Homo sapiens: one gene and its partners. The protein of the gene in region 1 interacts with the protein of each later gene in a pairwise test. Each region holds a gene or a part of one and is shown on either strand. Other genes may lie near its edges. The genes, in order: SUB1, PABIR3 and ABCD3.

What was found.
Region 2: the proteins of SUB1 (region 1) and PABIR3 interact in binary tests that used the Homo sapiens proteins (3 or more experiments, as listed by UniProt).
Region 3: the proteins of SUB1 (region 1) and ABCD3 interact in binary tests that used the Homo sapiens proteins (3 or more experiments, as listed by UniProt).

What each region holds. Positions count from the first base shown.
Region 1 is NC_000005.10:32,578,545-32,589,032, reverse strand, and holds the start of SUB1 (activated RNA polymerase II transcriptional coactivator p15), read right to left. Parts: upstream 3,477-10,488; 5' UTR 3,408-3,476; exon of another isoform or gene 3,062-3,407; intron 2,665-3,061; exon of another isoform or gene 2,532-2,664; intron 522-2,531; 5' UTR 521-521; coding exon 449-520; intron 1-448.
Region 2 is NC_000023.11:134,801,205-134,812,414, reverse strand, and holds the start of PABIR3 (PABIR family member 1), read right to left. Parts: upstream 5,179-11,210; 5' UTR 5,074-5,178; exon of another isoform or gene 4,876-5,073; coding exon of another isoform or gene 4,817-4,875; coding exon 4,707-4,816; intron 3,229-4,706; coding exon of another isoform or gene 3,042-3,228; exon of another isoform or gene 1,232-3,041; intron 1-1,231.
Region 3 is NC_000001.11:94,411,949-94,422,497, reverse strand, and holds the start of ABCD3 (ATP-binding cassette sub-family D member 3), read right to left. Parts: upstream 4,110-10,549; 5' UTR 4,020-4,109; coding exon 3,910-4,019; intron 1-3,909. UniProt on the Homo sapiens protein: Broad substrate specificity ATP-dependent transporter of the ATP-binding cassette (ABC) family that catalyzes the transport of long-chain fatty acids (LCFA)-CoA, dicarboxylic acids-CoA, long-branched-chain fatty acids-CoA and bile acids from the cytosol to the peroxisome lumen for beta-oxydation.

The DNA of each region.
Region 1 (10,488 bases):
TACTTAGAATTCTATGACCCTAGGATGCAAGGCAGTGTTTCTGCAACTTTAGGGTTCCTAATGATGCTCAACAGAAGACTTGTTAAGTCTGATTTAGGGCCTATGAGTATGAATGTGCAAAAAGCATCCTAGGCACTTCTAGTCAAGTGGTCCAGAGACCAACCGTACCTCCAGAAATACCCATTCACATTCTTATTTTTTATTTTTTATTTATTTATTTTTTTAAAGAGACAGGTTCTTGCTATGTTAGCCTGGTTGGTCTTGAACTCTTGGCCTCAAGCAATCCTGCCACCTCGGCCTCCCAAAGAAGTAGGATAACAGGCATGAGCCACCGCGCCCAGCTAGATCCTCATTTTAAGATGTTAATACACCTTTTACTATCCTTCAGAATGGGATATGGACAATATTGTTGAGTATCACCAAAATGACTTGGTGCAGCAGTAGTCACCTTTTTGTCAACCTCACTGTCAGAATCACTGCCAGAAGAGCTTGAAGAAACAAGTTCCTTTGATTTAGGCATCCTGAAAGAAAAATACATTACAAAAATAATTAATAAGGTACTCTACTACTTTCAACTTAGCTCTCCCCCAATCAAAGAAAAAAATCAAGGACAAGTTCCACGGTTCATTCTACCATTTTTGTGGTACTGAGTTGTTACACTGAGCACAAGTTTTAATCTATACCCTTTTAAGTTGCAAATAACACGCAGGGTGCAATGTGCTGAACCCAGTAAGAACAATGAACTAAATGTCATACACTCCTACACCTCTAACCTTTCTCCAGGCCAATGGATCTTTCTATACTTCGTTTTAATGGCATTACACACTATGGGTAGGGTAAACTGCAAGAAGGCAGCAGACAACAATTACTATTAAAACCAGAAGAAATGTAATTCTACTATTACTGCTTTAGACTTCTCATCAACGAGATTGGAACTAACGTAAAATTATTCACTATGGGGAACTGACCCCAACATTTACACAACAGGGAACTAGCTGTACTATGCAAATGTGACATCTAATTAATTTTTACATAATATTTTATTCATATTTTGACTTTTTGGCCGTATCACCAAAATAACGACAGGTACTAATTCAAGAGTACACAAAATTATACGCAATTCAGGCCGGGAACGATGGTTCACGCCTGTAATCCCAAAACTTTAGGAGGCCAAAGCAGGCGGATCACCTGAGGTCAGGAGTTCGAGACCAGCCTGGCCAACATGGTGAAACCCTATCTCCACTAAAAATACAAAAATTAACAGGGCACGGTGGCACACCTGTAGTCCCAGCAATTCGGGAGACTGAGGCAGGAGAATCGCTTCAACACCGGAGGCAGAGGTTGCAGTGACACAAGGTCACATCATTGCACTCCGGCCTGGGCAACAAAGCAAGACTCCATCTCAAAAAAAAAAAAAAATCTTACACAATTCACAGCAATTCATTACATTTTACACAGATTTTTCTACTCTGGAACATAATTAAAATTTGAAGAACCTATTTATGGGAGGTGCAAAACCTATTTATGGGAGGTGCAAAACCTTCCCGCAAATTCCTACCATGCTGGTAACTTCCCAGGTCCCCCCAGAGACATAGATAACTTAGTGCCTTGCTTACAAGTGGGTGTTTACTGAGTGCCTGAGTGCAAGTTTGCAGAAAGCAAACTATCAGTAAGCCTAAGCCCCAAATTTCAAGGAATTCCAAGATACGTGGATACCTCTATTCAAGGCACTTATAACACCAGGTCATAAAACGCTGATTATCAAAATATCTTTTGCTCTCCCCATCTCAGAAGAGATTAGGTCCTATTAACCCATTTATGCCAGAGGTTGCAATTTTTTGAATTTATGCAAGCAGACCTTGGCGATGATCTTGAGCAGTAGCACATAAATAACTCCCACATGCTTAGCGTTCCAATAATGGAACACTAGGCATAAATTAGCTAATTTCTGTATGCGTTAAAGGGCCTAATAAACACATCACACACTGTATTTGTTTAATACAAGAAAAAAAGACTTAAAATTCCTCCTTAAAAAAAAATCATAAATAATCTAGCTCTCTAGATGAAACTTGCATTAGCACTGACATTGCATATGTTCCAAAATAGGAGGTCAAGGAAAAAGAAGTGGGCCACCCCAATCCTAGCCATTAAATTCAAAAAGCTCAATCTGATTTTAACTGGTAATGTCTTCAAGGGTAAATTCAGAAGGGAAAAGCAATGTTCATGACCACGTTTTATCCGTTTTTCCTGTTTCTGCTCCATTTTGCAACCTCATCTCTAAAATCAATTTAGTTAAGTTTTTTATGCTAATTAATACGACAAAAAGATATTTTTTAAAAAGGTAATTAAATTGAACATAATTTTTCACTTTGAAACTGTCGATCATAACTACCGTCTGTTATCAAAAACTGCCTGGGGGCCTAAGAATTTTTCAAAGAACCACCTGGTACTCAACCCAAAGAAGTCCACTGGAGAAGAAAGGTAACGGTAACTAAAACCAGCCTCTAAACTTTTAACAAATATATATTTACCTTAATGAGCCTGTTCCAATGTGGGGGTGGGGGGAGAAGCAGCTTGTAATTCAAGTAACTGATACTGAAACCACTATTGTAGAATTTATACAAAACGCAACTTTAAAAAGAGAAACGAAATCTTCAGCCTTTGCTGATTGAGGGAAAGATCAGAAAAAAACGAGGTGAAAATGAACCAGGACTGAAGGGCACACGACTTCGGTATAACAGGAAGGTGACAAGCACAAGACCAGGGAAGGGGTCGCGCGGCCCCAGCAAGCCGCTAGAACCCCGTGGCTAGCAGCCGCTCGGGCGAGGGGAGACAGGTTGGTCGGAGGGGGCGTGGGAGGCGGCGAAGTGCGGAGAAGACGGCGTGGGAAGGGGCGGGATTTGCACCAAGCGCCATTTTCTTCTCTCGAAGCGTTCCCTCCCCCTGCACATCAGCCGTTCTTCCCCCGGCCCCCTCCCGCCCGCATCCGCTCTCCCAGTCTCCAGAGCGCCCCGCTCAGGGCGAGGGGCGGGGGAAGAGTAGGTAACCGCACGCGCCCCACCTAGGCAGGCCGCCGCCGCATTGTCCCGGGGACGCCGCGACTCTCTCCCCGCGACTCCTCACTCCCCGGCCGCCCTCAATCTACCGCCCCGGGCCGCAGCGCCCGCCGCCTCGACTCGGCTCCCCGGGGACAGGAGTCTACCGCGGAAGGGCCCACAGCGCGTCAGGCGTGGAGTCAGAAACGGAGAAGGGGGCCGGGGACGCCGAGGGGAAGGGGGAGGTAAGGCAGAGCCGCCATTTCCCGCGGCCATTGCCGGCGAGAGGAGTGGAGGGCCGAAGGCAGCTCACGGCCCGGCTGGGAGGGTGGGGGCCCCGAGGAGTAGGGGTAGGGGGTCCCGCGCACTCACGCTTCGCTCGGCTCTAGCAGTCGAACACCCTCTTGGTCGTTCGCTCGCGACTGACAGAGAACCGGAAGTGACGGCAGCCAGGAGACGCCGGCCCCGCCGCGCTGGGGCTGCGGTCACGTGATGGGGCGTGGCCTCCCCACAGAAACCAACACTTAGACCCTTTCCAGGGCCTTAAAGGGACCGCGTCTCTTCCTAAATGGGTGACGCGAAAGTCAGATGTTGGAAGATTACATCTGACCCTTGAGAGAATGAAAGAGCTAATATCCTTCCTGTAGGAGATAGCTTAAAAAAAAATTAAAAAAAAGGAAAACGCCAATAAAACATGAGTGACAAGCGCCAAGCTTTGCGTTTGTTCAATAAATGTTTACTCTAATGAAGCGAAGGGGTCATAATGAAAAAGATCAATACTCTGGCCCATTTTCCCAGAAATGGTCTTCCTACCCCACTTCACCCACCTCAATACATGCCTCTGCCTCCTAAAATCCAAAGGAAGGAAGCTAAAGTCACAGCGTTTAATTCCAGAAAGTGCAAGAAATCTTTGGAGTACTCCTTATTCCTGTATTGAAGTCCTGGAGATGTAAGGGAGTTCACAGAAGGCAAGAGGAATCCATATACAAGCAGGAATATAGCTAAAAGATTATTTGAATATGTATTTGAATGAATACTTCCTACAGCTAAGAATCAATATAAAGGCATATCTATTAACAAAGATTTATCAAGCACCCACTACGTGTCAGACGCTGCAGGAGGCAATTTACATTACTCATCCTAACAAGCATGTTCCAAAGCAGAAATGACTGTTCTCTCCATTTTATAGACGAGGAAACCAAAGTTAACGCCCTATGGAGAGGATATTTCCTGTTACAGCTGAAGCGTGAATTGTCCTTATGTTCTCTCCCTCCAGACCCTATTTTCCTGCCTCAGGTAGAGGAATGGTATGGGATTTTACAAAGTAGAGGATGGAATCCTGTCGAAGCTCAGAATTGCACATCGGAGATGCCACAGAGGCTAAGGAAGGGCAGTGGGTTGCAGAAAGGGAGGAGTGTTTGGATCTACATATGGAGCAGTTAGACCTGTGGTTCCCACCCATCCCACCCTTATAGGAGAAGAGAGTTATATATTCCCTGCAAACATTAAAGCTGGGAGCGGAATGTGTAATGGGGTTGAGACGCAAAGAACACAGCGGATGGAATCAAAGTCTGAACACTAAACGTGAAAGCATCCCCCACACGTCCCTTTCTAGAATTACCTGACTTTTAAAGGATTAAATGCTGACAAAAATACAAACTAATCCCTTAGTTTGTTGTGAAACTCTCCATCATAATGAAATAAAAGAAGCCATGAAAATAAACACTGACATCAGGCGCGGTGGCTCACCCCTGTAATCCGAGCACTTTGGGAGGCCGAGGCGGGTGGATCGCCTGAGGTCAGGAGTTCGAGACCAGCCTGACAAATATGGTGAAACCCCGTCTCTACTAAAAACACAAAAATTAGGCGGGCGTGGTGGCGTGTGCCCAGCTACTCAGGAGGGTAAGACAGGAGAATCATATGAACCTGGGAAGTGGAGGTTGCAGTGAGCTGAAATTGTACTACTGCACTCCAGCCTGGATGACAGAGTGAAACTCCGTCTCAAAAAAAAAAAGAAAAGAAACACTGACATTATGCATTGTCATGGGACACTGCGCAGCTCCACACCTAGCTAAAGAAATGCTTAATATTCAAGGTAAACCACGTACACTTAAACTAATATGGTATCCCCTCCATCTGCAACCCTTCCTGCTTTAACAAGTTTTCATTCAGTTTCTGTGTCACTGAGGGAACCTGGGCAGTGTGCCTGCTGTAGGTTTGGGTTTCGGTTCTCTAAGCGTCGGAGGTGGAGAGCTGTTAAGGAGGTATGCATTTTTAGAAGTAGGGAGACCTGAAACTTTGCATGCAAATTTGTTGGCTCAATTTTCCTGGGTGTGGTACTTTGTAAAACTAATCGAAAATCCTTGATCCTAAGCGTTGCCCATTTTTAAAAGGTAAACATAACTCAAGAAAATAAACAAAAATAATTTTTTACATAGATGAAAGAGGAAGGAAACTTTTTTATTTTAAACAAAATAGGGGCCAGGCGTGGTGGCTTATGCCTGTAATCCCAGCATTTTGGGAGGCTGAGGCGGGTGGATCACCTGAGGTTAGGGGTTTGAGACCAGCCTGCAAACCTGATGAAACCCCGTCTCTACTAAAAATACAAAAAATTAGCCGGGCGTGGTAGCGGGCACCTGTAATGTCAGCTACTCGGGAGACTGAGGCAAGGAGAATCGCTTGAACCCAGGAGGCAGAGGTTGCAGTGAGCTGAGGCTGCACTGAGCCTAGATCACACCCATTGCACTCCAGCCTAGGCAACAAGAGCGAAACTCCGTCTCAAAAAAAAAAAAAAAAAGACAGCAGTTGCTTTCAAATAATAGAATGGGAAGGAGGTGTAATTCACATGCATTTGTACATTGTGGGGTGGGGAATAGCTCCTTTTATAGGCAAATTCCTAGAGGGCATCTTTAAAAGTGAAAGAACTCCCACTTTCCACTCCAAGCCTTGGTCTGGAAGAAGAGGGTGGCACAAAAAGGAATGTGCTGAATTTGGAGAATCTGTAGGTGTCCCAGAAAGGGAGGTAGACTGGGAAGTAGGGCTGAGAAGGGAAATAGCTCACAAACTATGAAAGGGACAGAGCTTGAGGAGGAGACTGCCAGGAAGAAGTTCCTGGAGGCCTGGAGTATGGCACGGGACTGTTAATGCGGTTCCCTCCAAGGCCTTATGCTGTCGACACCCTCCGTTACTCACTTCTTTCAAAGCTTCCGAAAAAGGCTTATTCAAGTATCAGGATATTATTTTGAAATCTTACCCAATGTGGCTTTTGTTACTAGCACTTCCTGCTTTCTGACCTTCACTCTTTCCCCATCCCCCGTTTTCTCAGCTACAGCATTTGACTAGAAGAAGGATGTTAGACCAGAACACACAGACCAGATTCTTGGCTTTTGACTTTTTTAAACTATTAGGATTCCAGGCATAAATTACAGATTTAAGGTAATGTGCTATTAAAGTTTTTTTCTGGCTGGGTGCTGTGGATCCTGCCTGTAATCCCAGCAATTTGGGAGGCCGAGGTGGGTGGATCACTGGAGCCCAGGAGTTGCAGACCAGCCTGGACAACATAGTGAGACCCTGTCTCTACAAAAAATACAAAAAAATGGGCCAGGCACAGCGGCTCACGCCTGTAATCCCAGCACTTTGGGAGGTCCAGGTGGGTGGATCACGAGGTCAGGAGATCGAGACCATCCTGGCCAACATGGTGAAACCCCGTCTCTACTAAAAATACAAAAATTAGCTGGGCGTGATGGTGCGTGCCTGTAGTCCCAGCTACTCAGGAGGCTGAGGCAGGAGAATCGCTTGAACCCAGGAGGCAGAGGTTGCAGTGAGTCAAGATCATGCCACCGCACTCCAGCCTGGTGACAGAGACAGACTCCATCTCAAAAAAAAAAAAAGAAAAAGAAAAAGAAAAAGAAAAAAATCAGCTGGGTGTAGTGGTAAGTTCCTGTAGTCTCAGCTACTCAGGAGGCTGAGGCAGGAGGATTGCTTGAGCCTGAGAGGTCGAGGCTGCAGTGAGCCATGAGTGCGCCACTGCATTCATTCCAGCCTGGGTGACAGCCTGGGTGTTTTTGAGACCCTGTCTCAAAAACAAACAAACAAAAATAGTTCCTTTTAGCCCACCCCACTCGCCTGTAGAGATTATTGCAACTGTGAAAGGGAGGAGTCAGAAGAGAAAGGAGATGAGGCCCCTCTTCAGTGTCTAAGGAGTAGAGAAGTAGTTCTGCTGTCTGTCCCCACACCAGCCCTGGGGAAGGAAGGAAGCATCAAATTCCCAGAGGGCTTAGGGATCTGAGAGAGCAAAGCAAACTGGTGCCTTGCTTTCCAGGCAGCCGAGCTCTCCGAGCTCCTCTGCAACCCAAGCGCCCCTCCCTCCACCACAGAGTTGGGGTAGAGATATCTGTGTGGTGTGTCAGGATGGCCGACCTCAGGCTTCCTCACCGAGTTCAGAGATGCCCCAGGGTACTGCAGCATTCAGGGGAATGTCTTTCTCTTTGGCCAAGAGTGGCACAGATGTGTCAGTGACAGCCAGCAGACCTGGGGAGGACTTGCAGTGAGGAAGAGGAAATCTCACCACCCTCAACTTGCATAGAGTGCTGTAACAAAGGACATCTCAACAAATACCAGTGTGAAGAAGTGAGAAGGATCAAGAATCAGACAAGATGAACTGTTAAGCAAAGGCCAATGATACGGTCTCCATCTGTGTCCCTGCCCAAATCTCATGTTGAGTTGTAATCCCCAATGTTGGAGGAGGGGGCTGGTGGGAAGTGATTGGATCCTGGGGGCAGATCTCCCTCTTGCTGTTCTCGTAATAGTGAGTGAATTCTCACGAGATCTGGTTGTTTAGAAGTGTGTAGCACCGGCCGGGCACAGTGGCTCATGCCTGTAATCCCAACACTTTGGGAGGCTAAGGAGGGTGGATCACGAGGTCAGGAGATCGAGACCATTCTTGCCAACATGGTGAAACCCTGTCTCTACTAAAACTACAAAAATTAGCTGGGAATGGTGGCACATGCCTGTAATCCCAGCTACTTGGGAGGCTGAGGCAGGAGAATCACTTGAACCAGGGAGTCGGAGGTTGCAGTGAGCCGAGATCATGCCACTGCACTCCAGCCTGGCGACAGAGCGAGACTCCATCTAAAAAACAAAACAAACGAAAAAAAAAAACAGTGTGTAGCTCCTCCCCCTTGTCTCTCTTCCTCCTGCTCCAGCAACGTAGGATGTGCCTGCTTCCCCTTCTCCTTCAACCATGATTGTAAGTTTCCTGAGGCCTCTCCAGCCATGCTTCCTGCACAGCCTGTGGAACCATGAACTAATTAAACCTCTTTTCTTTATAAGTTGCCCAGTCTCAGGTAAATCTTTATAGCAATGCGAGAACAGACTAATGCGGCTGTCATGGACAGATGGGGAAAATGGGCCAGACTCTACCACTACCCTTAGTGCTCTGACACCATGTAATCCTACCCCACCTCTGTCCAGAATTTAGGAGAGAAAGGGGGAAAGGGAGAAATTATGAGTTTGACCTGAAATTGGCCACAATTAAGCTTTTACCACTAGGTGAAATGGTGATCATTAAACACAATCATAAGAAAATGAAGAAAGTCACATTTCCTGAGAGCCTGAGTTTGTAGCACAAGAGACATACCAGTAATATACAAAGAAGAGGAAACAAGAAAGAAAGGGAGAGGAACAGGCTTATGTGCCAGGGATGTGGTGGGCACCTAGGGAGGTCAGCCGCCTCTGGTTTAACCTCCAGGCTAAAGCAGGAAAGCAGATCACAGCGTGAATGACTAGGAGAACATAACTCCTTCCAGGTTATTTTGGGAAAACTTAAGAATTCTGGAGGTCCCACGGCACATGGAATGGTAGCACCAACCATTCAATTTGGATATTAAAAGATATGGTGGCTCTGGATGTCTAGAGGTTTTAGGAACACCTAGGATGGGGCCATGTGGATCATACATGCAAAAGAGAAAACAAATAAAACAAAAACCTGGGCATCCTCCAGTTTAGTGAGTCTGAAGAACTGGGAAGGGAGACAGTACAAGGTAAGAGGGTTGTTATGGATTGAATGCTTGTGTTTTCCCCCAGATTCATATGTTGAACCCTTAATCCCAGTGGGATGGTATTATAGGTGGGGACTTTGGGGCATACTTAGTCATAAGGGTGGAACCCTCATAAATAGATTCATGCTGTTATGAGAAGAGACAAGAGAGAGCTTAATTATTCTGTCTCTGTTCTCTGCCATGTAAAGATACAACAAGAAGGCAGTCATCTGCAAACCAGAAAGTGGGCCCTCACCAGATATGCAGGCACCTTGATCTTGGACTTCTCAGCCTCCACAATTGAATAAAATAAGTGTTGTTTAAGCCACCCAGTCTATGTTATTTCTATTACAGCAGACTAAGACGGGGCAATATACACTCTCCCCAAGAGGAGACACAGGGAGCACCTACTCTTTGTAGGGTGTGAGTTATATCCATCAGATGCAGTGATGTGAGAAAAAGTTAAGGCATAAAAAGCCTTGTGGGTGGGGCTCGGTGGCTCACACCTGTAATCCCAGCACTTTGGGAGGCTGAGGCAGGTGGATCACTTGAGGCCAGGAGTTCAAGACCAGCCTGGCCAACACGGCAAAACCCCATCTCTACTAAAAAATACAAAAATTAGCTGGGTGTGGTGGCACATGCCTGTAATCCCAGCTATCTGGGAGGCTGAGGCAGGAGAATCCCCTGAACCTCAGAGGGTGAAGTTGCTGTGAGCTGAGAGAGGGTGAAGTTGCTGTGAGCTGAGATCACACCACTGCACTCCAGCCTGGCTGACAGAGCAAGACTCTGTCTTAAAAAAAAAAAAATCCTTGCTTCACAGGCTTTGAAGAAGCTGGGAAAAATAATTTTCCTTCTTCCTTTCCTGCCCTGCTAAACCCTGGAGTGTTAGGCCTAGAGACAGAGAGGAAGAAACCAGCAACAGTGTTCACCTGGTGTTATGTAGGCTTGGCTTCAATGAGACATAATCCCAGATCAGAAAGCCAACAATGGCAGTCAAAAACAAACAGAGTGAAATTCCTCTGTCAGCAGTTATAGTGGTAATGCTGGTCATCTGGAGACCAAAGTGGGCAATTTAATATGGATGAGAGGAGAAAAGGAAGGACTGAACTTGCTCCCCATAGCAGCGCTATGACCCATGCGCTAAAATTTTCTTCCACCAAACAAGTTGCTACAGACCCTTGTATTTTATCTACCGTCAAAAATGAACTTTCATAGTACAACATTAAAAAAGCTAAGAATATGTAATTCCAAAAGTTTAATACTCCTTCTCACTCAAGTAATTATAAATAAATATGAATTACATGAATTACGTGTAAAGTCATATGCAATGAGTAACAGCAATATATTTAAGGAAGTTATTTAAATACAAACTGCTAAGCATTTCTCCCCTAGGGTGACTTTTCTGAACTTGGTAC
Region 2 (11,210 bases), on another chromosome or scaffold:
TCATTTTCTTTGTGAGAATAGGAATATGTTCTGGCAGTCACTCATAAGAAAATTGGAGGGACACTAATGGGCTATTTCTTTCCATTCTTTTTTGTGTACATGTGTAGGGGGCTTAATACTTAGGGCTGACAATGATATAGTCTACCCTAAATTTGTTTGCCAATTTTAGTAAGACTATAACTGAAAGAAAGAATTCAGGCAATATATACTTCAACTGGTATGCATCATTCAACATGAATTTATAAAACCCTAGCTGATATCTGAACTAAGTGCTACTTTTAACTCGGAAAAAGCAGAAGTAGTATAACTGGATGGATGTTCAATGTTCCACATCAAATGATCAATAAACAGCTCTGTCTAAACTATAATAGATTTATGTCACTTATATTCCCAAAGCAATCATTTCTCATGGCTGCTATTCTTCCACGTTCGTAAAAGTTCAATAAACCAGAAGATGGGCAAACTTTTTCTGCGAAGGGCCAGAGAGTAAATATTTTAGGATTTGTGGGCCATACAGTATCTGTTGCAACTCCTCAGTTCTGCCACTGCAGTGGGAAAGTAGCCATAGATAACAACTAAACAAATGGGGATGGTTCCATTCCAATAAAATTTTATTTGCAAATCCAGGTGGTGGGCTGCATTTGGCTCTGGGGCAGTAATTTGCCTTTCAAATAGAATTGAGGGTCAGGAGTGGTGGCTCACGCCTGTAATCCCAGCACTTTGGGAGGCCAAGGTGGGTGGATCACAAGGTCAAGGGTTCAAGACTAGCCTGGCCAACATAGTGAAACCCATCTCTACTAAAAATACAAAAATTAGCCTGGCCAACATAGTGAAACCCGTCTCTACTAAAAATACAAAAATTAGCCTGGCGTGGTGGTGCATGCCTGTAGTCCCAGCTACTCGGAGGCTGAGGCAGGAGAATCGCTTGAGCCCAGGAGGCAGAGGTTGCAGTGAGCCGAGATTGAACCACTGCACTCCAGCCTCAAGACTCCATCTCAGGAAAAAAAAAAAAAAGAATTGAGGCAGTAACAGTTTAAATGCAGGGTCAAGGTAGAGGTTTTTAAGGTAGGGAGGCACTGGCAGGAATACAAGAACCTAATCTCTGAGTCTTTGAATAAGGGTCAGAGAAAGAGAAGAAAAAACTCCTAGCTTTAAGTATAGTTATTGACACCAGTAATAAAGTCAGCCAATTACAGAGATAAAGAGTATAAAGAACCAAGAGGTTCAAAACTTTTGACGTTGGAATTTTTATTAGTTCAAGATATACATAAAACAGTGCAGATACTTCTTTAAAACAGTAATACTGTATTAAAGAGTTGATATGAAAGAAACAAACCTAAGGAATTTAATTCTGCAAATGCTGGTGCAAGAGGGTCTTTATATAGAAGAAACATCAAGCAAAGTTCGAAAATTACTTGAAAGAGGTGCAACAATGTTTAGCAAGCTAAATATTTTCTACAACAGCACAAAACATCCCCTCAGATCATTTGGGCAAGTTCCCTGACCTCAGGCATGTCACACATCATTCCTATGTTACTTCTTTCTGAGGGACTGGAGTCTCTGAACTCTGTCCACTTTGTGGTTTCTATATCTTTAATTCCTACTAAAGAAATATGCTAGTGACTTTCACCTTTCTGAAAAGAATGCTTTACTGGCCAGGTATAGTTTAGAAAGAGGAAGTACTCAAGTATTAGAGGGCCAAGGAAGGAAAAAAAAAGGGAGAAAAGTGAGCAGTATACATATGCAAATGAGAACTGAGGTGAAAATGAATTCAACTAAGGCTCAGTGTAATCCTACTCTAAATTTTTCTTGCTTCAGAATAACTTCTCTGACTATGCCCTACATTTTCTACAACAGCACAAAATATGCCCTCAGATCATCTGGGCAAGTCCCCTAATCTCAGGGATGTCACACATCATTCCTATGTTACTTCTTTCTGACAGACTAGAGTCCCTGGACTCCGTCCACTTTGTGGTTTCTGTATCTTTAAACTCCTACTACAGAAATATGCTAGTGACCCTTATCTTTCTGTACAAATTTTACTTCATGCATCAGGATCTTAAGCTATGGAATGTAACACTGTAGCTATGCTCTAATATAAGCAAAAAACAAACAAACAAAACAAAAAAATCCTTTGCAGAACAAAGCAAGGTATGAAGGGATAACTGAGATCTCTCTGTTTCCAGGGCTTTAAGGATTAGGGAAGGGTCCACTCCTTCTCTGGTGTATTTAATACATTAAAGAGGATCCACAGGTTCCTTCCAGTACACATCTTCCATCGTCTATTTGCAACCTATTTCTTCTTTTTATATTGTCTTCAATAAATCCAACATTCTCCCTACTGCTCTCTTCTACTAGTAGAGTGGGTCCCATAATTCCTTTTTCCCACAACAGAATTAGAGCAAAATCCTGAGTGAATAAAATGTTCTTGTTCTCAGCACAACATGCAGAGTCCCCCTTCTATGTTTTTCTACCTGCCTATTTTAAAAAGGTAATGTATTTTTTTTTGGTCAATCTTAGTTTGCTTTTCATTTTGTGAACAATATATTCTCTCCTACCTCAAATGACCCAAAAGCTGCATTCATTTAGAGTTAATCAGCTTAGGTATTGGTTAGTAGTGGCCAGAACAGTAGTTTAGGAGTCAGGAAACAGAGCTTCCTAGTACTGGCTCTGCCACTAAACGTCATTTTGGAGATTTATGGGCCTCAGTTTCCTCATATGTTAAACAAGGAGGGTAAAGCTGGTCTCTGAATCCCTTCCTGATAGTCTATGGTACTGTGAATTACAACTATCAATTAGTATGATGCAACAAAAGGTGAAGAGCAAAGTTAGTAACATATGTAGTGAATGCATTTTTCAGACATTTTTACGGTATCTAGAAAACCTTATAATACTGAAATGTGAAATCCAACATCTCATTTTAAAAGTCTAGTTTAAGAAGTAAGATTTAGGCCAGGCGCAGTGGCTCACGCCTGTAATCCCAACACTTTGGGAGGCCAAGGTGGGCGGATCACAAGGTCAGGAGATCAAGACCATCCTGGCTAACACGGTGAAACCCCGTCTCTACTAAAAATACAAAAAATTAGGTGGGCGTGGTGGCGGGTGCCTGAAGTCCCAGCTACTCGGGAGTCTGAGGCAGGAGAATCGCTTGAACCCGGGAGGCAGAGGTTGCAGTGAGCCGAGATCATGCCACTGCACTCCAGCCTGGGCGACACAGTGAGACTCCGTCTTAAAAAAAAAAAAAAAAGGAAACAAGATTTAGTAATCCCAGATCTTCAGAAATACAGTTAACCATCATTTAGTGTAGTGTTTCTAAATCCTTTTTTCATTATTGACCCTCTAAAAAGCCTTTTTAGACATTTTTCCCCTAATTGCTCCCCCTTCGTGAAATTTTAATAACACATATATAGTATATATCTGTGTACATACTGTATGTATATCTGCGCTTTATACATAAAAAGAGTAAAAATTTTTCACACTCCCCCAAGAACTATTTTCTCTTCCCCTTGGGGGAAGTATCACCCAGTGAGAATGTGTAATTTAGGAGATCAAGCTTCTGTGGTACCAAAACTTTCTGCTCCAATAAAAAATAGGTGTAGGCCAGGAGCAGTGGCTCACGTCTGTAATACCAGCACTTTGGGAGGCTGAGGCAGGCGGATCCCCTGAGGCCAGGAGTTCGAGACCAGCCTGGCCAACATGGTGAAACCCTGTCTCTACTAAAAATACAAAAAATTAGGCCGGGCACGGTGGCTTACGCCTGTAATCCCAGCACTTTGGGAGGCCGAGGCGGGCGGATCACGAGGTCAGGAGATCAAGACCATCCTGACTAACACGGTGAAACCCTGTCTCTACTAAAAATACAAAAAATTAGCCGGGAGTGTTGGTGGGCGCCTGTAGTCCCAGCTACTTGGGAGGCTGAGTCAGGAGAATGGCGTGAACCCGGGAGGTGGAGCTTGCAGTGAGCCGAGATCACGCCACTGCACTCCAGCCTGGGCGACAGAGTGAGACTCCGTCTCAAAAATAAATAAACAAATAAATAAAAAATAAAAATACAAAAAATTACCAGGTGTGGTGGTGGGCGCCTGTAATCCTAGCTACTAGGGAGGCTGAGGCATGAGAATTGCTTGAAGCCAGGAGGCGGAGGTTACAGTAAGCTGAGATCGTGCCAATGCACTCCAGCCTGGGCGACAGAGCAAGACTCCGTCTCAAAAAAAGACAAAAAAAAAAATGTAAAAAAGTCCAAAGCTTATTTGCTTGACAACCATTTCCATTCAAGCGGCTGGAGGTGAAGGTCAGAGGTGACAAAGCAGCTGAAATGACAAATATTACAGTCATGGCAGAAGATCTGGAGGTGAGTGGGGGAGGATACTAAGTTTCTTCAAAGGAGTGGGTAAGAAATGGGTTGAAGTTAGAAAAAAGCCGTGCTCCACACCAACTGGCTGCTACTTTCGGGTCCGAGTGGACTATCAGGGGAGGATGTTCAGATTCAGATGTTTGTCAACCTCAGGGTGGGTGCGCGCTCCCCCTCAGGTCAGCCCGTCCCACTACCCCCACCCAAGGTTGAGGGTGGGATCTCCGGACACCAGGAACAAGGGAGTTACCTGCAGAACCTCAACAAATAAAGGGACGGGAATTCTATAGGAAATCACTTTCCCGAACACCTCCTCCCCACCGCTTGCCTCCTCCAGTATCTCAACCCGGCTCACCCAAGTCCATTGATCAAAGGGGCACTGTTGACTCTTCTCAGAATGTTGCCGTCTGCGGTAGTGGAACTCGGCAGCGACTTGAAACCTAGTTTCATTTTCTCCTGTGCCATGTCCGGGTCGAGGAATAAGTTCTCAAGGCTTTCCGGCTCCCGTCCACACAAGGACAAGTCTACTTAGTGGGCAGGTGATGTAAGGAGAGAGGCAAAGGGGAAAAAGAGAAGAGAGGAGAAAGCTCTTAGGCGAGTAGGGGTGCCCACCTTTGCAGCCCTAGCAGCCCTAACATCAGTGAACACAAAGTTAGGCAGAACTGGCTCCGAACCGCCTATCTCCCATGATCGGGGCCTCTAACGATGAGAAGATCCCCCACCTCCAAGTCTATAATGTAACTGGGGAATTTAATCTGTCACCGCCGCGAATCCTTCTCCATCTCTCTCAGCCCTGGCAACTCATGGTAAGCCTTTCCGGCCAAAACAAAAACTACAATCTGCCGCCTTTGACAATCAGTTGGGTCCCGCCCCTCAGAGCCTGCGATAAGCTATCAGCCGGACGACGCCTGTTGTGATGCAGGCAATGACGTCACTTCAGGCGCCTTAGTCAGCTTTGCCAGGGGCGCACGCGCAGTTAAGAAACCGCTTTATCCCCATGTCCTGCCCTCCTTCCTCTTTCCCCAATGCCCACTTACCGTGGTTGTGCCTCTACTCTTTTACTAACCCTGGCATGGTTTCCTTAAGCATTATTTAGAAATGAAAGCGTTGGGAGGAGTGAGGTCCTTCCTGCCCTATGCCTAATTCTCATTTTTCTTATCCCTTTATGACTGAGGCCAACAAGCTTCTAACCTCCTATGATGCATTTTTCCATCCTGTAACAGCAGACACACTACACCTTTGTAATTTTAGAAAAGCAAAAGTCTGAAAAAAAAAAAAAAAAAAAGATACTGCTACCTAAGTGCTTAGAGGCCACTTGGTCCCAAAGGGTCTTGCTAAGGTGCTAACCTAACTGAGCTCATTTGGCAAACGAATTACTGTTTTCAGTGTGGTTTCTTTCTTTCTTTTTTAAACCATAATCGTACAGTTTTTTGTTTTTTTTTTTTTGAGATGGAATTTCGCTCTTGTTGCTCAGGCTGGAGTGCAGTGGCCGCGATCTCGGCTCACTGCAACCTCCACCTCCCAGGTTCAAGCGATTCTCCTGCCTCAGCCTCCCGAGTAGCTGGGATTACAGGTGCTCGCCACCACGCCTGGTTAATTTTTGTATTTTAGTAGAGACGGGGTTTCACCATGTTGGCCAGGCTGGTCTCGAACTCCTGGACCTCAGGTGATCCGCCCGCCTCGTCCTCCCAAAGTGCTGGGATTACAGGCGTGAGCCACCGCGCCTGCCTCAGTGTGTATTTTTACATTATATATAATCTGGCTCCTCACAGCTATTCATATAAAAAATAAAGACCTCAGCTAATTTACAAAGATTTGAGTTAAAGCAGTGAGGCTTTTTTAAAAACAAATATCTCAGAATTTAGTATCAATGCAAATCAGTGTTTTCATTTCAGGTAGTATTAGAAGCTACATACATTCTAAGAATGCTGCCATGGCTCATATCGTTTTAAGAACTACTCTTTTAGAAATTTTCACCATCACTTAATGAGCCACACTGAGTACTGAAATCTTAACTCCATGCTAATAATTTTGTAAAACCACACATTTTAGTAACCATATAGAGAACTGGCAGACAAGGCAAATAAACCTAGTGAAATGGGAGTTATTAATTAAAATAGTCATAACACTGGTATAGCACTTTACGGATAACATTTTTTTTTTTTTGAGACGGAGTTTCGCTCTTGTTGCCCAGGCTGGAGTGCAATGGCGCAATCTTGGCTCACCACAACCTCCACCTCCCTGGTTCAAGCGATTCTCCTGACTCAGCCTCCAGAGTAGCTGGGATTACAGGCATGTGCCACCACTCCCAGCTAATTTTGTATTTTTAGTAGAGATGGGGTTTCTCCATGTTGGTCAGGCTGGTCTCGAACTCCCGACCTCAGGTGATCCACCCGCCTCGGCCTCCCAAAGTGCTGGGATTACAGGTATGAGCCTCCACGCCTGGCCTACAAAATGTTTTCACATACTTATCTGGATTGGTTCAATCATCAACCCTGCTCAGCTACCCAGTGGTGAACTTAAAATAATGGGACAGTCTTGAGATAGTTCGTGACAAGTTATGACATGTAAGGTAATAAATATGTATTCTTTGTTCATTCTGGGAATAGAATAAGACAAACTTGAGTATATTAGGCAGAATTAGATTACTTAAATCCCAGACATGAGGATGATGTGGAGTCTCCATTCCTTATATAAGACAGATTAGTAATAGCTACCGTTTGTTGGGCACTTACTATGTGCCAGGTACTGTCCTAATCACTTTAAATAGGTGATTGCATTTAAAGTTTACAATAATTCTTTGAGGTAGGCACCATCACAATGCCCATTTTTCACAGGAGGAAACCAAAGCCCAGAGGGGTTTACTCAAGTTGCAACTACTAAGTGGCAAAGCCAAGATTCCTCTGCCCTTCTGTTTAAGTAAAAAAAAAAATGAGATGCCTCAGAATATCTCCTTGAATTTCTGTACTCATAAGCACTTGATAAATACTTCTGAAATTATTTTATGAATAAATGCAGGTTTAAATAGCCTATCTTTCATAGTTATCTTGTAAAGTAGGTAAATCATTTCTATTTTACAGTTGGATAAAATTCCAAAGAGATTAATGGCACATAATTAGATAGCAGGAGAATTCAGGCTAGTATCAAGATGTCCTAAAAGCCACTGTTAAAATTCCCAGGGTACCTGAACGTTTATAAAAGATGGTGGTTAAAGCTGAGTAAATTCAGGATGAATGCAGAAGGCAGTGATTAAAGACAGAACAGAGTCAAAAAACAAATTGTCTGAATAACAGAAAAATATGAAGCAGGCCAGTGAACAAGGGAATCTTACCTCCATTGTGTTCATTTTAATTTTCAACTTTTGCTAGTATTCTTGGCAGGTAGTAAGGTTTCATACGTATATTTTGAATAAATAGACAAAATTTCATCCTGCCTAAGCATTACAAGTATCTAATTTTTAAATAAGTACAACAACACTAAGAAAATAGGTATAATAAAATGACAAGGGAAGAGTGACTAAGGGACTATGTTTCTAAGAAAAGGAGTAATATGAAATAACTAAATATATGAGATGGTAATAAGTTTACAGCTATTATCAAAGAGAAGGAGCTCTCTTTTACAAAAGAACAGCTACATGTCAGGAACCCCAAACCTGTAAAGATATAAATAGGACTCATAGTACATACACAAATTGGAATATCAAAAGGAACAAGTAATACAAAAACAGCAAGAATTCTATATGCTACAATGGCAAACACAACATTAAAGAAATTGTTTTTACTTCTCCCCATTTCTACGCACACATTATTATACCAACCTAGCTGTGTTTCTTGATCAGTCCTTCCAGTTCCAGGGAAATATGCCATGATCTTGGGACACTGCTTTTGTTAGATCTAGACTTGACAATTAGGCTACTCCTCTCTTTGCATATCCCAGTCTGCTGCGTCTGTCCCAGGCCCTCACCTATAAAAGGGAACCAACAAACATGTGATAATCAGCTCTTTATTTTACCAGTTGTCATGACAACCTTGAAGCTACGTTGTAACCTTTAGTTACCACAAGAGCAAGTCAAATACAAGTCAAACCCAAATCTACAAACCACAAACACCCCAAACCTTCCCAAAAGATTTACATGAAAGGTTAAAAAAAAAAAAAAAACTAGCAGGCAAGAATGATGTTAATAAAACCTAGAAATGATGGCCAAAGTAGCATTATTCTCCTCGCGTTCTCCTAAATTGTTAAGCTCCTGAGGTCAGTGCATGCATGTGGTCAACAAATGATTGTTTAGTAGCTATTGTGAACAAAAGAATGTATTATAATTTCTTTTGAGCAGGGAGTAGGAGGTGGGGCTGGCCTTAAGGGTTGCTGAGACCTTGAGATAAAAAGAGATACCTAAGTTGCTCAAAAACAGAGGTTGTTGTTTCTAATCTAGCTGGGAGAAAAATACAGGCAATTTAAAGGAAACTATCTAAAAGTACTTACAAATCCCTCATACTGCAGGCAGAAAGCATAAACAGTGAGGAATAAAATGATAATTGGCCTTGGCAAGTTTAGTATGGGATAATTGAAAAGAGGCAGGCAAAATTATTATTTCTGGCTGAATTTTGAAAGCAATTTCAGAACTATTACATTTCAATGCAATGGCCTTCTCTTCCCCAGGGCCATTCAAGTGGTGAGGATTAAAAGAGTTTGTGGAGTCCTGATAAGATAAGTAAGAAACAATGAGAAAGGGGCCCCAGGTGGGGAAGAACAATGAAAAATTGTTCTGAGAGACCTAGGGCACAAAGACCTCCTTCCACATGTGGCCCCAGCAGCATGACTTGTTTCCACATGCAGCCCCCTCCAGCTCCCTCCAGCCCCTGCCTCTTTGCAGACAGCTCCTCCTCTGCAGTGCTGCCCTTTGCCTCCTTGCAACATACTTCCATACCTTCTCTAGTAAATCTGCCTTTCTTTACCTACAACTGTCTTGGTCAATTCCTTTACCACCTGCGCCACTGGCCAGCTGCACCTGCAACATTTTGGTAGTTCGTATGGGCCTCTCCCCTACTTTCTCCCTTTCCTCCAATTCCAACCTCTCGTTGGACAGTGTCAAAACCCTGAGATAATTTTAAGTCCCTGGCCGGGGCTGCTCCCCAGGGAACCAGAAGGTCCTGGTGGAAAGACACCAGACTGCTGTCCCACGATTCTGTGAGACTTCAGAATTTGCTTTACTTTTCAGTCTTCCAGAGGACAAATTCTAGTATCCCTCTGGCAATTGATGGCAACTGGTCAGGGCCATTTCCTGGTGTGGCCTCAAGGCCAGCGGGTGTGAACAGGTTTGGCTGCCTTGCCTAGAAGGGAAGAAGGCCCTCTCCTATCTCTTCTGGCGAAAAGGTCTGCAATCCCTATGTAGTGCAATTGGCACATATGTTTTGGGGAGCTCAGAGCCCCTCTTTCTTACTCTAAATAGTCCTGCAAAAACAGCCAGACCTCCTGCTCTGGACGTTCCCAAATTAGGTGATAGCAAGCAGCCTCAGAGCAGTGAGTCTCCCCATTCTGGTCCTCTCTCCTGGGATGGGACCAGGCTGAGTTCTTCCTTTACCCTTTTTCCTTGTACCGGGGCTAACCATCCAGCGTAAGGCCCCAGCGCTGAGATGTCCTTTCTAATAGGTGGGATGCCCCTTTAGAGAGTGCACTTGAGGCCGGGCACGGTGGCTCATGCCTGTAATCCCAGCACTTTGGGAGGCCGAGGTGGGTGGATCACCTGAGGTCAGGAGTTCAAGACCAGCCTGGCCAACATGGCGAAACCCCATCTCTACTAAAAATACAAAAAATTAGCTGGACGTAGTGGTGCATGCCTGTAATCCCAGCTACCTGGGAGGCTGACACAGGAGAATCGCTTGAACCTGGGAGGCGGAGGTTGCAGTGAGCCGAGATCCCACCACTGCACTCCAGCCTGGGCGACAAAGCGAGATTCCATCTCAAAAGAAAAGAAAAGAAAGTGCACTGGAATCCCTCAGCAGATGTGAGTTGAGCCCTCTTCCTGGTGGGGCAGGGGGGTGGGGGCGGCGAGAGAGTGTGGTTCGTGTCTGCAGCAGACGTTAGTCCCCGGCAGCTCATCGTTTTCCAGTCCCACCATGGGACAAACCTCCTCTATTCCGTCAGACTCACCTATGAGTTGCATCCCAAAACGCTGAGACAAATGTAACCCTCAGATTAAAAAAAAAAAAAAAGTCGAATTTTCTTTTGTAATACAGCATGGCCCCTATGCAGAAAACCTCAAATCAGTCTCCTCAGTCTTTTATAACCAAGAGCAGGATAAGGACAGGGCTAAGGAGAAAGAAAAATGCAGGGACAAGAAGCAGGCTCAACTGTTGGCTGCTTTGCAAGCCCCCAGCCTCCATTCCAGGCTGCCCTAAGGATACTCCTCCAGATAACTGCCATCAGTGCAGAAGCCCAGGCCACTGGAAGGCAAACTGGCCCTATGGCATGAATGACGAAAAACCCCCGCATGGCTTGCCCCCTCTGCCACAAGCTCGGCCACTGGAAATGGGACTGCCCTGGAGGGCCAAAGGGTCCCTGGGACATAATCCCAACCCCTGATGATCATCAGGCCTTAAGCTGAATGGGGGCTTTCTGCTTTGGCTAGCTTCCAGATCAAACATGAGTCATCAACAAAACAAAACCAAGGGCAACTCTGGAGGTGGCAAGTATTATAAACTTCCCTTTTGAGTTAAAATGCTGCCTATCATGGAGATGCCCCCTCTACCCCTTTCTGGAAATACCTTTTGCTTATGTGGTAAAAACCTGGAAAATTACTATCTGGACTTTTATTTAGATTGAGTCACTATTGGAATTGAGTGCACCATGAAAAGAAAAT
Region 3 (10,549 bases), on another chromosome or scaffold:
TCCAACCTTTTTGGCACCAGGGACCAGTTTTGCGGAACACGATTTTTCCACAAATTGGGGTTGAGTTGGGGGATGGTTTCAGGATGAAACTGTTTTGCCTCACATCATCAGGCATTAGATTCTCATAAGAAGTGTGCAACCTAGATCCCTCACATGTGCAGTTTACAACAGGTTCACGCTCCTATGAGAATCTAATGCCCCTGCTGATCTGACAGGAGGCGGAGCTCAAGTGGTAATGCTCGCTTGCACAGGCTGTGCAGCTGGGTCCTAACAGGCCACCAACCTGTACCAGTCCACAGCCCGGGGGTTGGGGACCCCTGGCCTACAGTATCATAAAAGCAGAGGACACTTACATCAGTTTGGAAATCAGAAAAAGACAGAAAACACCTAAGACAAAGTGTTGACTGAGTCTTGAAGAAAAAGAAGTATCAGCTGGGCAAGTTGGCTCATGCCTGTAATCCCAGCACTTATGGTTGGATGAGTGGGAAAAGTAGGGAAGGACCACACCATGAATACAGAAAGTTTGTATTTTAGAGTAGATTAATGATTTTAATGAAGGAATATTATGATCATATCTGAGCTTCTTAAAAAGAGCTCTGGTGGCAGTGGAAGATGGATTGAAAGGGCACCACAAAGTTTCTTTCTAACATAAATGCAACAAAAATCTGATAAAGGATGCTGTAACAGTCACTTTATTCCAGTTATCCACTCCTACCCCCTTTCTAGGCTTAACACACATCCTTCATGAAGCCTTCCCCAACCCTTCCCAAACACATTAATCTTGTCTTTCTCAAAACTTCTAAGACATGTCTATCTGTACATTTCATTCTGCTATCAGTGTTTAAGTTTCTTTTCCCTAACAAGAAGGTAAGCTCCCTGAGAAAACAAGTCATATATTTTTGTAATACACACACACACACACACACACACACACATCTTATAGCTCCCAGTACAGTAATATAACATTCTGAAATAGACACTTCCTTTAAATAGCCCTCTTTATCCATGAGTAAAAAGATTCTTCTTTTCCCCATAAATAATAAAATAAAAGGTAAGATTAGGCAAACTAAGGTGAAAAAGTTAGCTTAGCAGTGCTGGAATCAGGAGTGAATACAAGCTGATCAGGAATGAATACAAAGGAACTTTCTGGTGGGATAGAAATGTTCTAATTTGTCATAGGGATGTGTTACATAGTGTATCCATTTGTTTAAAAAATGTACAACTAATATTTGTACATTTCAATGTATATAAATTTTACCTAAAAAACCTATAAAAATAAGGGGTGACAGGCAGGTTGAAATAGATGAAACAAGAATATAGAATGTTGTTGGTACTCCTTGGGTAAAGTGCATTGGGCAATCCTTGTATTATTCTATTTATTTTTTATATGTGTGAAATTTTCCACAATAAAAGGTCAGAAACACACACACATATATATGAGATTTAACTGAGTGAAAAAAATTACATTAACAAAAATTAAAAGTAACCCAGAACATTTAATTACTCATTCTCCCAATGTTTGGAATAATGTTACACTGTAACTTTTAAAGTGATTTTACTAGCTCTATTACCTATCCAATTCTAAGGGAATATATATTCTAAAACCAACCTACTATTAACAACATAGACAAAAGAAGGCCAAGTAGCCACAGTTTCCTTAATTAAGCACCAGATATTAAAATTAATCAGTTCTGTTACCAAAGATATTCAAAAGCCCACTCAAATATAAAGTTAGAATCTTCTAATCTTCAAACTGTGATACCAAAGGTGGTGACTAAAAGATATTTGTAAGCTTCTGGAAGTACAATATCTACAAAAATACACTCAATACCATTTTTAATGGTTTCAAAATAGTTCAATCATTTCACCTCAACAATTTAAACTTCATGATTATCTGCTCAGAATCTGCAATCTCCTCCAACAAAATACTGTGTAAAATAGAGATTTTCCCCACTCATCCCAATGCAAAAGACTAATAATAATCTTTTGTTCAGTACATCTCCTGCTAAAGAATTTAATCCCCACAAAAGCTCACAAAGTTTCTCAAAAAAAAATTTTTTTAGGCATTTTACAATGGCAAATGAGGAGCTAAAATTATTTAATAAGACAAATTCTATTACATTATTTTACTTCTATCGCTACTATTTCCCAATAGATTCTGTTTAAAATTTCCCTTAGCAATAATCTATGGTCTTACAAACTGGTTTAGTAGTTAGGTGGACTGTGACTGGATGGGGGCATGAGGAGAATTTCTGGGGTGCTGATAATGTTCTGTTTCTTGATCTGGGTGCTGATTACACGAGTGTGTTCTACTTGTAAAAATTCTTCAAGCTCTATGTGTACTATATGTATGTGGCATGTATGTGATACTATATCACATATACATATAATCATAAAAGTAATCCAGAACTTGTAGGGCTGTCCTCGAGTCCCCTCCTCCATATTAAAACACCTGTTCTATGCCCTGAAACACTTCTTTGCAAAAACAGAATTCAAGTTAAAGGACCTAACATCTTCTTTCTACTGGCATGTTCCCAGGTAACAGGTAACTTCTATTTGCAACTGGGAGTTCATACAAACCAACAGAAAAACTTGCTTTTTATTTTCCCAAATTAATCCTTTTAAAAGCAAACTGAATAGAAGAAAAATGAGTAAGCGCTGTTATTGCCCAGACTATGCTGCAAATCATTTTCAACTCTGTTAAATGGATTTAGGAAGGAAAAGAAAGATCATCACTTCAGACTCTAGTAAGATAAAAACAGAAGGCGGCTAGAAAGAACTTAATGGAAAGGGTACTATAAACTAGAAGTCTATTTGTGTTTTAGCCCAAATTTTACTACTAATTAGATATTGTAGGCAAATCAAACACGGGAGGCAACAGTACCTGCTCAGAGGAATGAATGAAATAAAATTCATGAAAGTAGTATGTCAAGATTTAATACGAAATATTCAATGACTGGCAAGAACGCTTGGGAAGTAGCCTTTTCTCTTTCACTTGTCCAGCAAATAAAAATTGCATGTATGTGACATACATACCTGTATGTCGCAACCGTAATTCAGCTCTCTCTTTTTTACTTTTTCTGAACTGATAACCTCCCAAAGTTAAATCTAAGCACTGAAATTCTCCCGCGGTGGAAGCAGTGGCGTGTCATTAAAAAGGAGCTTGATCCTCACCTAAACCACACTCTCATCTTTCACCTACAGAGCCCAGGAAGGAAAACATTTCCCTCTAAGTCCGACAGAACCGATCCAGCCTTTCCGGATGAAATGCCACCGACCAAATGTTCACCGACCAAAGGGTTCACCGACTCCAAGGGCTCACCACTTTAGACGGCAATCCTGCCAAGTGGACCGGGAATAGTTTCATAGAAGCCACCCTCGCGACTTTCAATAGCAGTTAGTCGGGAATCGAGCCAAACCTCGTCCAAGTGACTTAGACACCAGCCTCCAGCCTGGCGAATCCAATCCCCATCCTCAATCACACATCCACGTCCCCAAAACAAATCCTTCACGGTCTGAAGATGAGATGGCAAAACCAGAACACACCCAGAAAGTTGACACAGAAGGGGGTGATGTAGGGAAGGGGGTGGGGGACACACCGCATCCCCCTCCCACCCCCAACTGGAGGCCGCTGCCTGAGTGCTGGCTGGGCGCCGGTTCGCCCGCGGGCACAGAAGAATTCGCACTCCCGGGGTGGAGCGAGGTCGCCGGACAGGCCAGCTGGGACCGACGCCGTCGTGGCGGGGACTCGCGGACACCCTGACATTGAAGTCCCACGGCAGTCGCGGTCGGCCCTCTCTCCGCCCGACCCCGTCGGGCAAAGAGACCTGTCGGCCGGGTGGGGAGAGAGAGCGCGCGGGGAGCGCCCGCTCCAGCCCGGGAAAGCTGCACGGCTACGGGCCTTCTTACCCGTGCAGGCCGAGGGCGCGGCGCCGCTTGTGGAGCAGGCAGAGCAGCAGGAACGCGGCACCAGCCAGCGAGGAGTTTCGCGCCGTCAAGTACTTGCTGAAGGCCGCCATGGCACTGCCGGTACCAGCGAGCCGGCGAGGGGACGCGGCGGCGGCGGCGGCGGCGGCTACCTTACTGCACGCAGCGCGGGGGAGACTGGGAGGAGAGCAGAGGGCGGGGCCGGCCGCGCAGGACCGCCCCCTGGCTCGCGCCGCCGCGCCGCCCGCGCTCTGGAGCCCACTTTGTACTTTGGCCCGGCGGGAGCGCGCTCGGCAGCCTCCGTGGGCGGAACAGTTCCCGGGACGCGCTCTGCGCACGCGCGGACTCCTTCAGGGTCTCCGGAAACGCGGCGCGGAGGAGCTGTTGCTACTCAGCCCTGCGAGGCGTCAGTGCTGCCCCTGCCTCACCCCTACCCTCCCACTCTTCGCGCGCACACCCCGGCTTTCACAATAACTGGATGAGCGGGCCTGGCCTGCAGCGACGACCTAGTGGGCCCTGCCTCTCCACTCCCGCGGTGATGTACCGTTACCACCCTCTTAAAGGAGCCCAGGAAGGAGGCGGACGGCCCCGTCACAGAGCGTGTAGGGAAAACACAGCACAGTGATTATCAGGACGAAACCAAACAATCGGAACTCCGCAGAGGTGTAGGGAGATGTGAGGAGAATGACACAGATCAAAGAGCTTTTTCCAAGCCAGTATTTTCCAAACCGCGGGTTATAATCTCTAGCGCATTGTGAAATTGGTTTGGTAGATCGGGATCATCACCCTCCGTTTTTAATAAAATTGAGAATAGAACAAAATAGAAAAGTTTCACAGTACATCACGTAGTAAAGGAGTTGTTTAGAGAAATTTCGATTTCAGTGTTTTGCACGTATGTATCGCCAGCGGCGATGTAAAATGTATGCAGATCTGGTCAGAAAAAAGTTTGAGAAACACTGTTCTTTGCAAAGGGACATTCAGAAGTAACAATCGTGCGTTGTATTAATGCTGGCCTCACTCCCAGAATCAGAAGGGCTTTGCAGATTACAACATTCTTCTCCTGTCTGACCCTATGTTGCAGGAATTGTTATCGCCAGCATTGAGCCTAGCATATATACAGTAACAGTGAATCGCTGTTTTCAGCTGAGGAAACTGGAGAAAAGCAAGTGTGTCAGAAAATAAGCTCATAAAACCTCGCATAATGCACATACATATTAAAGTAGCCTACAAAGTAGTGGTGCTGTGCCCTAGGTGTTTTCTCAATATAAATGAGCTGTTGCCTAATACAGGTTATGAGGATCACAAAGACGAGGTACAATAATGGCATGCGTATAGAGGTGCTCAACAGTGAATTCTAAATTATGCAGAACTGAAGCTCCTACTAATTCACTATTTGTCATGTGGACATTTTCATTACCTGGAGGGACAAAAGGTTTTGGCCCTCTGAAAGTTAACTGAAAACCGCTGACATAAGGCAGATTAATAGAAGAAAAAATTAATAGGAGAAAAGGCATACAAATTTAATGTGTATACATGGGAGCGTTCAGAATGGAGACCCAAAGATACTTGGAAAATTGTCCATTTTTGTGTTTAGGTTCAACAAAGTATGGACAGCTATGTAGAAATGTGATTGGACAAAAATGGTATAATCTAATGCTAACAGACTGAGTGGGGACACCCAGCAAGGCCTGTCTAGATTCTTCTTGGCCTTCTGAGCACCATTCCTTCCTTCTGGGTATAGGGCAGGAATGGAATGGAGCTCTTAACAGCCTACAGTCAAACAAGGCAGGTCAGATAATTTCTTTATGGCCAGATTTTACAGAAAAAGGGGGAGGGAAAACTAGCAAAATATGTTTAGGCTTTTATGGCTGGCTTTAGGGGATAGAGGTTCTGGTTTCTACATCTTGTCTTGAGGAATAGGGATCCTAATATCTATGGCTAGCCTAGGGAAATACGGGACTGAGAGACAGGAGGGCCAGAGTAGGGCAGAGAACTTTTGCTACTGAGACCTTCATTTTGGAGTATTGTGTTGTGAGCCCCAACGACCTCACATAATTTACGTAATTAAGTATGCCTGGCACAGATAACACAAGGATGAACAGATCATGGAGATCATATTCTCCAGAGGCTGTTAGAGAAGAAAAACGTGTAAAAAAAATCAAGTATAAATGTGGTAAGTACTATATTAGAGATATGAACAAGGTGCTATGAGAACACAAACATGAAAATATTTAGTTTTGTCTAATGCTTTCAATAAAGGCTTAAGGCTTGACAAAGGTGATTCTGTAGCTAAATTCTAAAGGACCGCAGGAGTCACTCAGGAGGACAAAACAGGAAATTACTAATTCAGTAATAAAGTGCTAGAAAAGAGTTGGGAACCTTGTGAGAAAGTAACGGTATCATCTTAGAGTTTGTAACAGTGAAGGAAGTACAAGCAAGATTAGTCAAAAACAGTCTAGAAAATAGATTTCAAAACAGTCAGAGGAAAGATAGAAATGATCTATTGACAAAACATTCTAAAAGTTACCCTTGTTCAAGAAGCATGGGAGATTCTAAAAAATTACACTAGTTATTCGAGCTCAAATAATTTTAGCTATTGATAAAGCCCATCTGACAAAAATCACCAGGACCAAATCTGGAACCCATTAAGTTTATTAATTTGCTACAGCAAAAGATACTATACAGCAGAGGAATTGTGGCCATGTCTCAAAAAAAAGGAAGAAATAAGGAGTCATTATAGTATTTAGAGAAAGAGAGGAGTTTAGGTAAAATCTAAATAAAGCAGTGCTTGATAGGCCTAAAGCAAATCAGATCTGTATGTAATATCAAACCTGGGCTGAGAAGCAGATTCAAGATTCTAGTTCTTAGAAACATACATTTAAGATTAATGTAGAATATTGTGTCTGAAAATCCCTTATCTGAACTTCTGCACTGGAAATGGAGACTGCTTCTGTAACTCTAAGTGACTCAAAGAGTTCAAATCTGCCAGGCAAGAAAGGGATGTTCTGTTCTCACTGATAGAATCTCAGAACAACAAACTTTCTAACAGTCTAGGATTTTAGAGAACAAAATTCCTCAGCACTATGTCCTTTGATAATTAACAATGCAATTTTGCAAGTTCACACTTCATAATATTAAATAATAAAGAAAAACAGAAAATGTGATTTTATGGGGGAGATCTCCAAGAGCTCTGATTTTTAAAGAATTTGAGCTACTGAGAACAGGTAGGCAGGGCATAGGAAGTTAGTGAATCTAGAAAGCCTCTGGAAGAAATGTTGTGTTAGCCAGACTCCAAGATTGTCCCTGGTGATCATGGTGTCCTAATATTTATGCCCTCATGGAATTTCCCTCACATCAGAGCTGAGTTTTGTGACCAAAAGAGTATAATGAAGGTGATGCTATGTGACTTCAAAGGCCAGATTATAAAAGGCACTGTGGCTTCTGCCTTGGTGTCTTGGATTGCTTGCTCTTGGGGAAGCCAGCTGCCACAGAGAGCACTCAAAGTGCCCTGGAGAGGAACTGAGGCCTCCCACCAGGAGCCAGACCAGCTTGCTAGCCATGGGAGTGGGCCATCTTGGAAGCAGATCCTCCATCCTCAGTCAAGCCTTCAGGTGACTGCAACCTCATGAGTAATCTCAAACCAGACAGCTCAGCCAAGATGCTGCTAAATTCCTGACTCGTAGAAACTGTGGAAGGTAATGTGTTTATTGTATTAAGTCACTAAATTTGGGGGTAATTTATTATGCAGACACTGTGACCTTGAAAAACAGATGGAAAAAAGAGGATTCCGAAGAAGATACAACAGGAGCAAAGATGCAGAGACCGAAGCAGATTGAGGAAGGTGATTAAGTCTGATGTGGATGGAGGCTGAGGGAGGCATGTGAAATGAGAGAAAAGTTTGCAATGTTTAACTGAAGTCAATTTGTGGAGGGTCTGAAACACCAATCCAACCGGGTAGGATTTTTATTCTGCATGTAGAAAGGTGTATTGCAGGTCTGGGGAAAGAGTAGTGACCTCAGGATTTATTTAAGAAAGATCATGCTAGTGGCAGTGTGTAGAGTGGGCTGAAGGAGGAACCATCAAGCAGAGGGACCAGTTTGAACACATGAAATAGTCTAGGTAAAAGGTAGTGACCATGTGAGTCAGGGCAGCACAGATCAAATAGGAAGAAAATGACTTTGTGGATTCACATAAAATGGAAATAGGTGAAATAATTAATTCATAGGAAGAAAATTTTTACATTGATTCTGATATTGCCTTGCTGAGTGTCTAAGAGGGTGATACTATTTACCCAAGGTCGGAGACACAGAAGTGGTACATGCTCATCAGGAAAGGTAATGAGATGCAAACAAATTCCTTACTAGTTTCTCATCACCAAGATAAACTGCAATAGCCTTAGCATCTCACACAAACCCAGTGATGATATAAGCTCTGCCTACCTCTCTAACTCCTATCTTGGCACTTCTCCCCTCCTACAGATATATTCTACCCCTACCCCAGGAGATAGATGCCTGCTATTCACTTCTGTAGTCTTCCCTTGAATATCCTATTCCTTCTACCTGAATCCCTTCCTACCCTAACATCCTCACGTTCAACTCAGTTTATCCTTTAAAACGAAGCGTTCATGGTCTCCTACTCTGAACAGTCATCTGTGACCAGTCCCCCCTAACCCCTTCACCCCATTGCCAAGTTAATTATTATCTTCTTTGTACTACTACTGTTTCATATATAATTCTATTAATATGTAGTAGGGTGTCTGGGGAGGCAGATCTTAAATTTTTTTTAGAGACCTGCCAATCATTTCTCTGGAAAGGTAAACACCTCAAGTCACTGAGAACAAATCATCTTTGCTCAGAAAAGAGTCACTTGAAAAGCCCCTCTTACCAATTAGAAATGGAAGGAGAATAGGTACCCAACTGCACCAAGGAAAGGACATCCTGACAAGGCTGTTTCTTCAAATAGCCCTAGTTAGCCCAAGCTGGCATTGGGGAAGTTTGCATAGGAGAGCCTCCTGGGAGGAAAGAGATTGAGATCTCAACCTCTTCCTTTTTGAGGTTCACCACTACTAGACTTTCTGATGGACTCAGATAGTCCTGTCTCACTAGATCAGGGTCCCAAAGAGGAATGTACTCCCTTTTCCTCCCAACTGTGTCCGCATTGCATCCTGTTCAGGCTTCTGCCAGAGCTCCCGTAGTGTTTATTTATTTAAATTGCAGTAACTATCATGAGGGAAAGAGCCAAATCTTATTTTTCTTTAATCCTACATAATCTGAAAAAAAAATTGAATACATACCTCATACTCCCAATAAAATAAAAAGGATAAATTCAAAATTGCTCAAAGAATGAATTTTTTAAAAGGAAAAAAAAGATACCATAAAAATATTAGAAGAAAAGATGGCAGAATTTTTTATGATACATTTATCTTATAATCTTGGCATGGGGAAGACCTTTCTAGGTATTAAAATCCAGAAGCCATAGAAAAAATAAATAAATAAATTTCACAACTTAAACATTTTTTTTGTGATTAAAAACAACCTGTAAACAGGGTAGAAAGAAAACTGTAAGGGAAAACTGCACTTATTTTTACAGATAAGTGGTTAATTTTTCTAAAAGTACCTTAAAATTAGTAGGAAAAAGGCCAAAAGCTAAATTTAAAAAATGAGCAAATAATGATATAGCTCACACAATAAAAAAATTAAAATGGCTCTTAAACATATGAAAGGATTACTCTTATCATAGAGATACAAAATAAAACTACACTAAAAATCAATTTTTATCTGCCAGATTGGCAAAGACCCCAAAGTGTGGTAACACTGTAATTTTTGATTACTAGTTCTGAGAGGCAGGTAAATAAATATGAACTCCAGAAGAACAACTGGGCAATAGCTTTAAAATAGTTACAAATGCATGTACCTTTTGACCCAGAATTCCACTCCAGGGAATTGACTCTGCAGATGTATTCTCACATAAGTAAAATATCATAGGTATAATGCATCTTTGTAAGAGCAAAGAATTGGGAACTTTTCTAAATGTCCATCAGTGGAGGTCTGGATAAACAAATATAATGGAATATTATACACTCATTAAAAGAATGAAGCAATTTTATATGAACTGATATGATTTTCAAATATAATATTAAGCAGAAAAAAGCCAGGTGCGGAAGAATATGCAAAGTTTATCACCATTTGTAAACGGAGCTAGTGGGGGAAAGTAATATATACTTATTTGCTTATAGATGAATAAAATATCTTTGGAAAAATACTCATGACATTGATAATACTACTTGACTGCAAGAAGGGTAACTTAGTAGGGGTAAGGGGTGGGAAGACTTCACTGAATAAATTTGTACCTTTTAAGTTTTTAACCATGTGAATATATTACCTATTACATCAAAAAAATTTTTTTAATGAGGTGACGTTCACATGACATAAAATGAGCTATTTTAAAATGAACAGTTTGGCAGTATTCAGTTCATTTACAATGTGGGGCAACTCCCACTTCTACCTAGTTTTAAAACACTTTCATCATGAACAAGAAAACCCTGTACCCATTAAGCAGTCATTCCCCTTCTTCCTCTCCCCGTAGTCCCTGGCAACCATCAATCAGCTTTCATCTCTATGAA